2 separate regions of the Homo sapiens genome follow, and region 1 is linked to region 2. Evidence: fine-mapped expression QTL. Tissue or cell type: whole blood. Region 2 holds a variant in brackets; the other region holds the start of a gene. Each region is shown on its reference strand, or each on the opposite one.

Evidence for each region. PIP is the estimated chance that this variant, and not a neighbour inherited with it, causes the effect.
Region 1: it holds the start of AGAP2, and the variant in region 2 is fine-mapped to the expression of AGAP2 in whole blood (TOPMed, PIP 0.99).

The regions. Positions count from the first base shown.
Region 1 is chr12:57,736,437-57,741,804 of GRCh38, reverse strand. It overlaps AGAP2 (ArfGAP with GTPase domain, ankyrin repeat and PH domain 2), which reads left to right and starts at 3,063. Exons shown (of 19, transcript NM_001122772.3): 1 at 3,063-4,726. The coding sequence starts at 3,559. RefSeq lists an enhancer at 438-517 and a silencer at 3,691-3,910.
Region 2 is chr6:7,237,726-7,243,093 of GRCh38, reverse strand. RREB1 (ras responsive element binding protein 1) reads right to left here. Exons shown (of 13, transcript NM_001003699.4): 11 at 2,492-2,656. Among named protein-coding and RNA genes, the nearest start is that of SSR1, 73 kb to the left of the region's middle. The variant T/A (reference allele first, on the strand shown) is at 2,750.

The sequences.
Region 1 (5,368 bases), not on the chromosome of region 2:
AAGATGGGACTCTGGGAAAGAATACATTTAGGGAGGATGGAAAAAGACATGGGAGGTATCATTCTTTCTCTTTCCCTGCTCTGATCCTTCTCCCAGGAGATCAAAATACAGGTCCCTGTTGAGCTGACCTTCTTGGCAATGAAGAAATGTGTGAGCATGGGGAAGATAGGCTGTGACAGACTCATGGTAGACTTGTTCCCTGCCTGGGGAGTCCAGAGCAGGAAGCAGTCTGGGGCAGCAGGTTCTGGGACTGGATAATGAGTTCATTCCCAGGACCCACAAAGGATCAGTGACCTCTTGTTCTCCAGCTGTAGAGAGAAACACATGCACACACATACACACACACACACACGCATGCACATTGAAGTACACCATGCAGAGAATCTCAGGCTCCCAAGCGCATACTAACTCTCACACACTATGCTCTGCAGAGCCAAAGTGCAGATAGGTCCCCAGAACTCTTCTTGGTCCCCTCTCCTCCCCTTGCTCCTGTTCCTGTCTTCCCCCCACACACCTTCCGCTCTACCTCCTTAGTGCCATTAGAGCAAGTGATGACAACACAGGGAGGAAATGCTGCCATGGCAACACCATCCGCCACATCCTCCTGCCCACCCCAGGCTTCAGTCCTGTGGTGGAGCCCTGGCAGGAACAGCTTCTCTCCATCCACAAGGCCCTACCACTGAGGAACTGGTGGAACTGGAGGTTGTTCCAGCTCGCTGTCATTCCATTCACCTCTGATGCAGCAAAGAGCTAACAAAAGCAGCCTTCTTTGCTCATGAAAGGTGTCTGGTGGAAACACTTCTTCCATCATATCCTGATCTCTTCCAGCCATTTCAGTCTTCTCCATTGTTACCTGCCTACCTGGGTGGTTGTCAAGAGATCATTCTTTCCCTCAAGGACACCTCCTGCCAGACCTCTCTGCTAGTACACCAGAGTATAACTTGGGGAAGGAACAGCTTGCTTTGGATGCCTAGTGGGACAGTCTGATGATCCCCTTCCCATTGTTCTTCGGAGGCTAGTGCCCCTCTCACCTCCTGTCCCATACCCTTTGCCAGGAACTACACCTGAAGCTTCCCCTGACAGCCTTAGTGTTTGGAAAGGCAGACCAAGGGGGAGTGGGCCATGGGGCCTCCTAGGGAGAAACTCTAAGCCCCACCCCTCTCAAAAATAATAATGATAATAATAATAAAGGAGAAGAGCGGTTTAGGCCAGGCAGAAAAGCTGTGCTTAGCTCTGGAGAGGGAGGAGGGTGAGGAGGGGTGGAGGTGGAAATCCCTGAGAAGGCTTCACTCCTCATAAGTGATTTGTTTTACTCCTTCTCTAAGAATTAGTATTCTGTTCCCATTGAACATAAAGGAAAACCGAGGCCATCAAAGGAGGGAAGTTTAAGCCAGAGCCAACAATTCTCCTTCACCCTCTCCATCAAAAAACACTACTGAAGGGTCTCCTGTCCTGGGGATGGTGTCATCTTGGTTCTGTAGGGAGGGAGGGAGAAACTGCTGAGCCCCAGGACAGAACATTGGAGGGATTGGATACAGGCCTCTGGGAGAACAAAGGGCTCCTGGCATCCTGGCTCAGCCCCCCCACCCTCAGCCCCCCACCAGGCCAAGCACGCTGCGGGCTCCTGCCTCCAAGAGCCGCCCACGGCAGCACTTATTATAGTCTCAGCTGCGTCAGGAGGGTGGGACGCCAAATCAGGGGACTGCTGTGACTCCCCAAGTCCCGGGAAGGGGTCTCCAAGGCTGCAGAGAGACCTTCCTTCGCCCATCTTACCCCACCCCCAAGGGGTCTCAACCTCTTTTCCACTTTGGCCTAACCACTTCAGGATTCTCACCTGGCTGGAGGATAGAGAGCCTTGAACTCCAAGACCCCTAGAGGGGTGGGGGACACGGAGCAGACGGTTTCCATTCACTCTGCCTGCCTCCTCTTTAATCTTCTGAAAGAATCCCACTCAGCAAACCTCAGGAGACTGAAAGGGAACCCTGAAGAGGCCGGCTCTCACTGCCTCAACTGAAGGGTCCTTATACTTGGGGAGTGAAATCCTCCACCTGTGGGTAGCCAGGTGTCAGGGCAGTGCCTCCACTAATTCAGCATCCCGCGGTTGGTCCCCTACCCACCATACACACGGATTCCTCTCTGCTTCTGCCCGCTGTTTCTGAGGCACTCTTGGAGCTACGGTTGCTATGGAGACTGGATGCATTTTGGCATGGGGGGGTATCAGTCTAAGACACATCCTTCTCCCTCCTCCTAGAGCTGGAGCCTTTGACTTACCCTGTGGCCTGGGCTCCTCCAGCACTCAGATCTCTCCCTTCTCTCCTACCCTGCTAAGTTCCATGTTTGTCCCCATCCCTGGGGAACATTTTCCAAGTTCACTTTGGGACAGTCGAGCTCAAGTCTTGGCCCCGTCAAAGTATTAAATGTGGTGGTGTGAGTGGGAAAGGGAGCTGGGTCATGAGAACGGGAACCGTCCAGGTACCTGGGGGAGACAAGAGATCCTGGGGGAAGGGATTTCAGGGCCCCCACTTTCCCACTTCATCTTCCCCAGAATTGGCAGTGACCCTGGGTTTGCTCTGTTTACCGCGGCCCCTGTCCACCCAATAGATCGATTTTCACCCTTATCCCTAAATGCCATACCTCACAATCGCGCTTCCTAACCTTGGTGCGCGAGAGGAGGGGGCTAGGTTGTTGGAGGAGGTGAGTCCAAGTCCCAGGAAATCCAGCCCAGGATTTGGGAGAGAAATCCAGCCCTGGATTTTGCACCGCCCTCGCAGACATCGGTGCTGGTGGAGAAAAGGTGGGGGGGAGATAGGGTGGGGGGGCCTGGGGGCCGCCTCCTCCTCAATGTGAGGGGAGCGCCCGGACACAGCGCGCATCCGGACCAAGCCGAGCCCAGGCGAGGCCCCCGGACTCTTCGCCCGGATCTCACGCCCCTCCCCTCCCAGACCCCAGACCCGTGGGTTCCCACCCACCTCCCGTTCCCTCTTTCCTCCCCCGCCGCCTCCTGTATCTCCATCCCCAGCATCCTCCCCGCGCCCCTGCGAATCCCCCGCACGGCCAGCCCCACTAGCTTCCCACCCTCCTCTAGACCCTCTTTCCGACCGCATCCGCGGCCCCTGTCCCTTGAGTCCCAATTCCCCGCCCCTGCCTCCCCCGCACAGGTTCGTTTCCCCTAGCCTCCGGTCCCCTTTTCTGCTCCCTTTTCCTCTCTCTCCCCCATTTGCCCCCACTACTGTCCTCCCCGCCCTCCCCCACCCATCTCAGCGCCCCCACCCAGGCCGGGGTGGACGGTCCGGCGCGCCTCCCTGGAGCAGCACCAAGGTCCCGGGGCTCCAAGAGGGTGGGGGCGCAGGGCGGGGAGCATGGGGAGGGGGCGCCCCATGTGATGGGAGGGGGGCGCAAGCGGAGGCGGCGGAGGCGGCGGCGACAGCGGAGCCGGGCCGGGGGCTCAGCGGGGTCCGGGGGCTGGGGGCAGCGAGCAGGGCGGCCCCATGGCCGGGCCCCCCTGAGGCAGTCCGGGGGAGTCCCCTCCCCTCCCCAGCTCGGGGGTCTCCGGGCCCCATGAGCCGGGGCGCGGGCGCGCTTCAGCGCCGGACAACGACCTACCTCATCTCGCTGACCCTGGTTAAGCTCGAGTCGGTGCCTCCGCCGCCGCCTTCTCCGTCTGCGGCCGCGGCCGGCGCCGCCGGTGCCAGAGGCTCCGAGACTGGGGATCCTGGCAGCCCCCGAGGCGCGGAGGAGCCGGGCAAGAAGCGGCACGAACGTCTCTTCCACCGGCAGGATGCGCTGTGGATCAGCACGAGCAGCGCGGGCACCGGGGGCGCGGAGCCCCCAGCCCTGTCCCCGGCTCCGGCCAGTCCGGCCCGCCCAGTCTCCCCCGCTCCCGGCCGCCGCCTCTCCCTCTGGGCCGTCCCTCCGGGACCCCCGCTCTCCGGGGGACTGAGCCCCGACCCCAAGCCTGGGGGCGCCCCCACCTCCTCCCGGCGCCCCCTGCTCAGCAGCCCGAGCTGGGGCGGCCCGGAGCCCGAAGGCCGGGCGGGCGGCGGCATCCCTGGCTCATCCTCTCCGCACCCTGGCACCGGCAGCCGGAGGCTCAAGGTGGCGCCTCCTCCGCCGGCTCCCAAGCCTTGCAAGACCGTGACCACGAGTGGAGCCAAAGCCGGCGGGGGCAAGGGCGCGGGTAGCCGCCTGTCATGGCCCGAAAGCGAGGGCAAGCCCAGGGTCAAGGGGTCAAAGAGCAGCGCCGGGACTGGAGCTTCGGTCTCTGCCGCCGCCACCGCCGCCGCCGCCGGGGGAGGGGGCTCTACAGCTTCGACCTCTGGTGGGGTCGGGGCTGGGGCTGGAGCCCGAGGGAAGTTGTCCCCTCGGAAAGGCAAGAGTAAGACCTTGGACAACAGTGACTTGCATCCGGGACCGCCTGCCGGCTCTCCTCCTCCGCTAACCCTCCCACCAACTCCGAGTCCAGCCACTGCTGTCACCGCTGCTTCCGCGCAGCCCCCCGGGCCTGCACCTCCAATCACTCTGGAGCCTCCAGCTCCGGGGCTGAAACGGGGCCGGGAGGGGGGCCGAGCATCCACTCGTGACCGCAAGATGCTCAAGTTTATCAGCGGCATCTTCACCAAGAGCACAGGAGGGCCTCCTGGCTCCGGGCCCCTTCCCGGACCCCCCAGCCTGTCTTCTGGCAGCGGGTCCAGGGAGCTGCTGGGCGCCGAGCTCCGCGCTTCCCCTAGTGAGTTGAGTCAGGGCTTGAGAACAGGGAGGGAAGGGTACCTGGAATGCTCAGCTTGGGGTGGAGGAGCGAGGTCCAGGAAACTAGGGAAGCTTTTCTCTGGGGTGGGCGGATGAACCAAGCTCACCCCTCTGTCAAGGATTGGGGCAAAGAATAGGAGTCCTGAAGCGGGGCGAGTAGCTACATTGTGCGACAGGAGAAAGGACTTGATTTCAGAGGGACTCAGCCTCAGAGCTTTCTGGGAAAGTAACGTCCTTGATCAGAGTGACTAGAAAATTGCTCCCAGAGAAGCCCAGGACCCCACTTCCAGCCTCAGCTGAACTCTGGGAGCATGGAAACGGGGCTTTGCCGTGTTTAGAGCGACGTTGAAGGTGAAGGGGATGAGGAAGCCTCAGTTTCCCCTGAGCACTTGGGGCAGGTGGCATGACAGTGACCTTGCAGGCAGCTTCTCGCCAGGGACTAGTCGTCCCCTGGGCTGAGAGCAGGCTAGTGATGTTTTTCGTGCGGTGAAGGCGGATTGGGCGGTACGCGAGTCCGCGGGGGCTGGAACGTGCAGAATATTTAAATGTGAAGTGAGAGGGGGCGGATAGGAAGCCTCACTTCCCCCACTGCCCACCCCCTCCCCAGAGCCGCATTGAAACC
Region 2 (5,368 bases):
AGGCGGCCACCATTAAGGGAGAGCTTAAACACTTTCATGTTTATACGAATTAAAAACAGCCCTATGTAGGTGCCTACAAACACAAAGACGGGGCATCATCGGAGGAAGGACCAAGGGCATATCCCTCAAGGGCAGAGGGGGCCAGGCTGCCTCTCTGTCCAGGACAGTGAATGAAGAATTTCAGTTGAAATTTGAATATTCAAAATGGACCTTTAAGGGAGAACTGCCCCCACTGTGGCATTTTTAGCATTCTTTTGGGGGACTTTATGAGACTGAAAAATGTCAGACCTACATTATAAAACATGTGTAGGAATTTTAAGAAAATGCCACCTAGGCATACAAGCCTAGAAAACCCCTCAAGGACCTCCTTGGTCATTTCCTTCCCCCCCCCCCTTTTTTTTAAGTGGTCTTCCTTCAAAGCCTCACTTTTTAAACTTCACTGGGGGGGGGGAACCCAGAATGAAGGCTTCACCCCATGTCCATCATGCTCATCTGCATTTTAAAATCCTCCTTGAAATCACTAAACTCTGCCTCCCTAAACTTTTCCCTCCCACTTAAATCTCAGTCCCTTTTCTCACCATGGACTGTGACCACAACTAAACCAAACATGTATTTTCTCTTTGCTGGTTTCACATTACAACTTTCAGTGACTTTTCTTTTTCTAGAGGCTTTGTCCCTTCAAGGAACCCTATATAACTTCCGGGGTGGGGTGGAGGTGGGAAAGGGCTTTGTTGGGATTTGGACAACAAAACCTATGACTGCAAACTTATAAATACACTTGGTGCTGAACCGAAGCTAAGACCACAAATTCCGACTCAGCTTTGTGTCTGCAGATGTCAGCAGGAGCCCCAGTCTTTGTTCCTCCCTTATGATAAAGAAGCTGAATGCAAAATGCACATCCAGCACGGAGTTACTAAGACTTATTTGTAAACATGGAAACCCAAGGGCTCCCCCTCAGCTCCCTCAGTTACCGGCTGCTTTCGCTACTGTGGAACCACTATGGGAAGATCACAGGGCAGCTTTCTAAACCAGGATGAAAGAAAATGTTCCAGACTAACAGGTAATGTGGCGGCTGATGGTTAAACATTAACAGGATGGTCTGCAGCAAACGCGTGCCTGCCAGCACTGGTGTGCGCTTCCAGTGGGCTGAACTCCAGGTCATCTTTGGCTCACAGGGGTCCAAGTTAGGCTAAGATTCCGTGGGCACCCACATCTTTCTTCACTCAAAGATACTGGTGAGTTATGTGGAAGTGGAAGCTGGGGAAGCAGTGAACAAACCAGCTTACCCTTTCATACCCTCAGAGGATCTGATCTAGACTGGCGGTTGGGCAGTCAAGAGCACTCACAGTTGGTTTCACTAGGGCTCAGTGGGAGGCGTAGAGATGGGCAAAGGGTGGCCTCTCCACTTCAGATACACCCTGTACCCCTGTAACCAAGGTAAGGACAAGGGGCTAAGATTAATGCCCAACCCTCTTCCACACTGACTCCTGAGGCAGGGGTGCCTCGTAACTACAGGGCACCCCATCTCCACCCTAGTCTGAGGAATAGAAGCCACAGGACGCAAATACAACCCTAAAAAAACACAGCTGGGGGGATCTCTTCGCAGCCACAAGATAGTGTCAGGTTTTCAAGACTTGCAAAACTGGACCCAGCACCATGATGCTGTCCCTGTTACTAATCAGTGCCAACTGGCGGGATATCTAAGTGGCCTGCAGCAGGCTGGCTTTCGTTTTGTTTGCTCTTGGGGGTGAGGATGGAGAACCCCAGCAGTCCGAGCGGATGGAGTGTACTGATAGAGGACATGAGTAAATTCAGAAACTATAAGGGAAACAAGGTGGCACAAGACGTATCGGGCAGCCGTTAATTGCTCTGTGGGTGCTGGAGGGAGGAAGCACACATCAGCACAGGAGAATAATACCCGGATTCAGGTCAAGCAGAGATGTGATTAAAGAAAGGACATGCACAGTGCTTTTTCAAACAAGGACAGTCTTACACCGGGAAGAGAGTTATTGAAAAGAAGAACACCGCACCCCTCGTTCCTACAATACCCTGATATCCCAGGGAGCCCAGGCCTGCTCCCGAGGAGGCTGCAGCGGCTAAGGCTCCCCAAACCTTTAGGTTTCACATCCCCTTTAGATGAGTTCATACCCAGGGCTAAAGTTGTAAGCCTTCCCATACATCCCACCTCCCAACATCGGGAACAAAGGCCTCTTCTGCCAAGAGGGTGACAGATCTTCCCTAGCAGCCCCGAGAGTCACCGAGGGGCACTGTCACTGTTTTCTGCTGTCTGTCTAGGCGATCTGACCCAGGAGTTATACTCCCTCCCAATCATCAGCAGGGCCTGCCTTTCTATTAACAGGCTGTGGGCTCTGAATCCTACAGAGAAGTGAACAAGCAGCCCCTCCACAGCTCGGACTGGAGTTTGCTACAATTCTTAACCGAACTCCTCTCTCTCCCTCTTCCTGGGTTCTTGTTCACCTGGCGGCACTACCTGTGCTATCATGGGATCCAACATCACTCTCTTTTGACTGGGGGATAAGCCCGTTTCTTCTCAGGGAACAGGTGGTAACTCCGTGTTTGCGCAACTGGTGGCGTTCACAGTTAGATTTGGTAGAAAAGAAGGCATCGCATTTTTGACAAGGGAAGGGTTTCTGACCTGAAGCAGGAAAAAAAATATATATTTATCTGGCTTTCTACTGCAATGAAATAGAAAAGTCGCTTTTGTTTATTCTCCTGGGATCATTGGCAG[T/A]TGTTCCCCCCTCCTCCATCCCTTCAAGAAAATTAACAAAACACATTAGAAAAAAAAAAACCATCAATGACTAAAATGATCATTCTCCCTTTTCCTAAGTTGAATGGAATATGAATTTTTGTCCTCAAAATACTAAAATAAATGAAACTGAAAAATATACATTTAAAGTAAAACAACGGTATTACAATTAAAATATTAACGACAACAAAAAAAAGCGAATGAAGAGATTTTAGAGCACAGCAAGAAAACACCTATATTCTATCACAAAGAGAAAGACGCCCTCTAACGAGTTCTAGTGTGGCAAGGACACCGTAATATGGACACTAGGAAATCCAATGGGGAACCCCTGGGTATCTTTGGGGGCCCATGAAGAGAAGAAGTCAGGGACAGCCCCCAGCCAGGGTGGCCAGTCCCCCTTCCTGGCCTTGGTGGCTGTGTCCCTCCCACAGGGGAACGGGAGCAGTGAGTTCTGACTTCCCAGGACAACTCCTGTCTGACTTGCCGAGACATCCTGCAGTGACCTCTGTTCAAGTTCACTGTGGTCCTAGGTGGCAACAGTCAGGAGATCTTCTCATTAAAGGTTCTTTGTTCCCCCTGCTCCAAGCTTGGTTGCAAATGAGTGACCAATACGTAACTATGTCTGCATTTGATCATGTGCTCCACTCAACAGATGTGCATGTGAAGAGGACATTTTGGCAGCCCTGCCTCGCCCCTAGACCCATCCCAAACGCACAGATGGGTGAGCCACTGAGAGAGGCACAGTCCCCTCCTGCTTTGGTCTGCCTACCCTCTCCTTTTACTTGGATTCCTTTTGTGCTGTAAACATCATGTTTCAAAATGCAATAGAAGCTCCTCTACAACTTGTCCTGGGTTTGTGCGGATGCATGTGAGGGAGAAAGAAAGCACAAGGGAAAAAGGAGGTGGAGAGGAAAAGAGAGGAGGAGGGAGGGGATCAGGGGCCTTCAGGAGGCGGAAGTTGGTGGTGCATCACTTGTGTATCACTGAATTCCTCCCTTTCCCCCAAGTTGCTGGAGTCCAAGGTCCCAGTTGCTAATGTTACAGGGTAAAAGGTTTTGTGTGTTAACCAACATGACTTCAGAGCTGGGGCCCAGTACTTTTGTCTCATAACCCTAGGATTGCCACAATTAAACACAGCTCCCTGGAAACACAGATCACAGGGGCCTCTGGCGTTAGATTAATGTCGATAGAAGCCTGAACTAGTGCAGGTGCCCAAGGCCACGCACTCCCCTGTGAATGCACAGCAAGGGCCTGGCACCTGGGGACCAGCCAGAGGGGCCACGTGTTTTCCCAGGGGAAGGAGGGACTAGCCTTAACCGGCACTGGCTGTGTCACACGACTCCAGGGGGCGCCATTCATACAGAGCCTGAAGGTGTGGACCTGGCACCGCCCCCATGACAGCATGGCCACAATTTCACATCAGGAGTAATAATCAGAGACAGGGGACATTGATTCCCTCCTGAGCTAAAAGACCCTTTAAGATGATGCTTACAAATCTCCTCAGGCGCTTTTAAGAATAAAGATGCAACAATCAAAGACAACAGAATTAGAAACCCGGAAAGGGCAGAATCAGACACCCAGAAATCCGGCCTGTGTGCTTCTGAGTAGCTCCACAAGGCAACCTGAACAAAAGTGGAGAACCCCACTGACTGTTTTCAGGGTCTCCTCATATCATTCTGCAGGTGTTTTCTGCAAAATTTATTTTTAAAACATCCACATTAAAAAAAAAAAGTGTGACTAGTTGTACAGTATGTCAGTGTTCATGGTGCGTCTTCCAAATTACTTCTTGTGGTCATGTGCGGTGGCTCACGCCTGTAATCCCAACACTGTGGGAGGCCAAGGTGAGCAGATCACTTGAGGCCAGGAGTTCAAGACCAGCCTGGCCAATACGGTGAAACCCCATCTCTACTAAAAATACAAAAATTAGCTAGGCATGGTGGTGCACACCTTAATCCCAGCTACTGGGGAGGCTGAGGTGGGAGGATTGCTTGAGCCTGGGAGGCGGAGGTGGCAGTGAGCAGAGATTGTGCCACTGCACTCTAGCCTGGGCGACAGACAGACTCTGTCTCAAAAATAAAATAAAATGAAAAAAATTACTTATTGTTTTTCATTTAAAATTGAACACAGTATTTAATAATTTCAAGTAAAAATAAAGTACTTTTAACATTTTATTGTCAAAAGGTAACACTGCTGCTTCTCTGAGTCTGGCCAGATTGAGAAAAGAACTGGGCCAAGAGGAAAACAAGTAAGAAGCTACTATGATAGGATTCTTGATTTCAAAGAAAACAATCGGCTTCTCGCTCCCCCCTGTCACATGGTTTACTCTGTAATTTTCACACTGGTAAGTGCGTCACCTTTACAGTTGGTTAGGACTGCCAGGCTGACGTCCCCATGAGAAGGTCCCTATTAATGCTAAATTCAGAAAACAATCCATGATGTGAAAGTATTGCATCAAACTACAAAGGCTCCCAAAGTGACATAACAACTCACATGAGTCATTAGAAGCTCACATTTCACTGCGTAAGTCTGACATTTTTACATAGTGGTGGGCTCTCTGGATTGCAGGGATGCAGGAAAACGGGCCCGTTTAGTATTTTATAA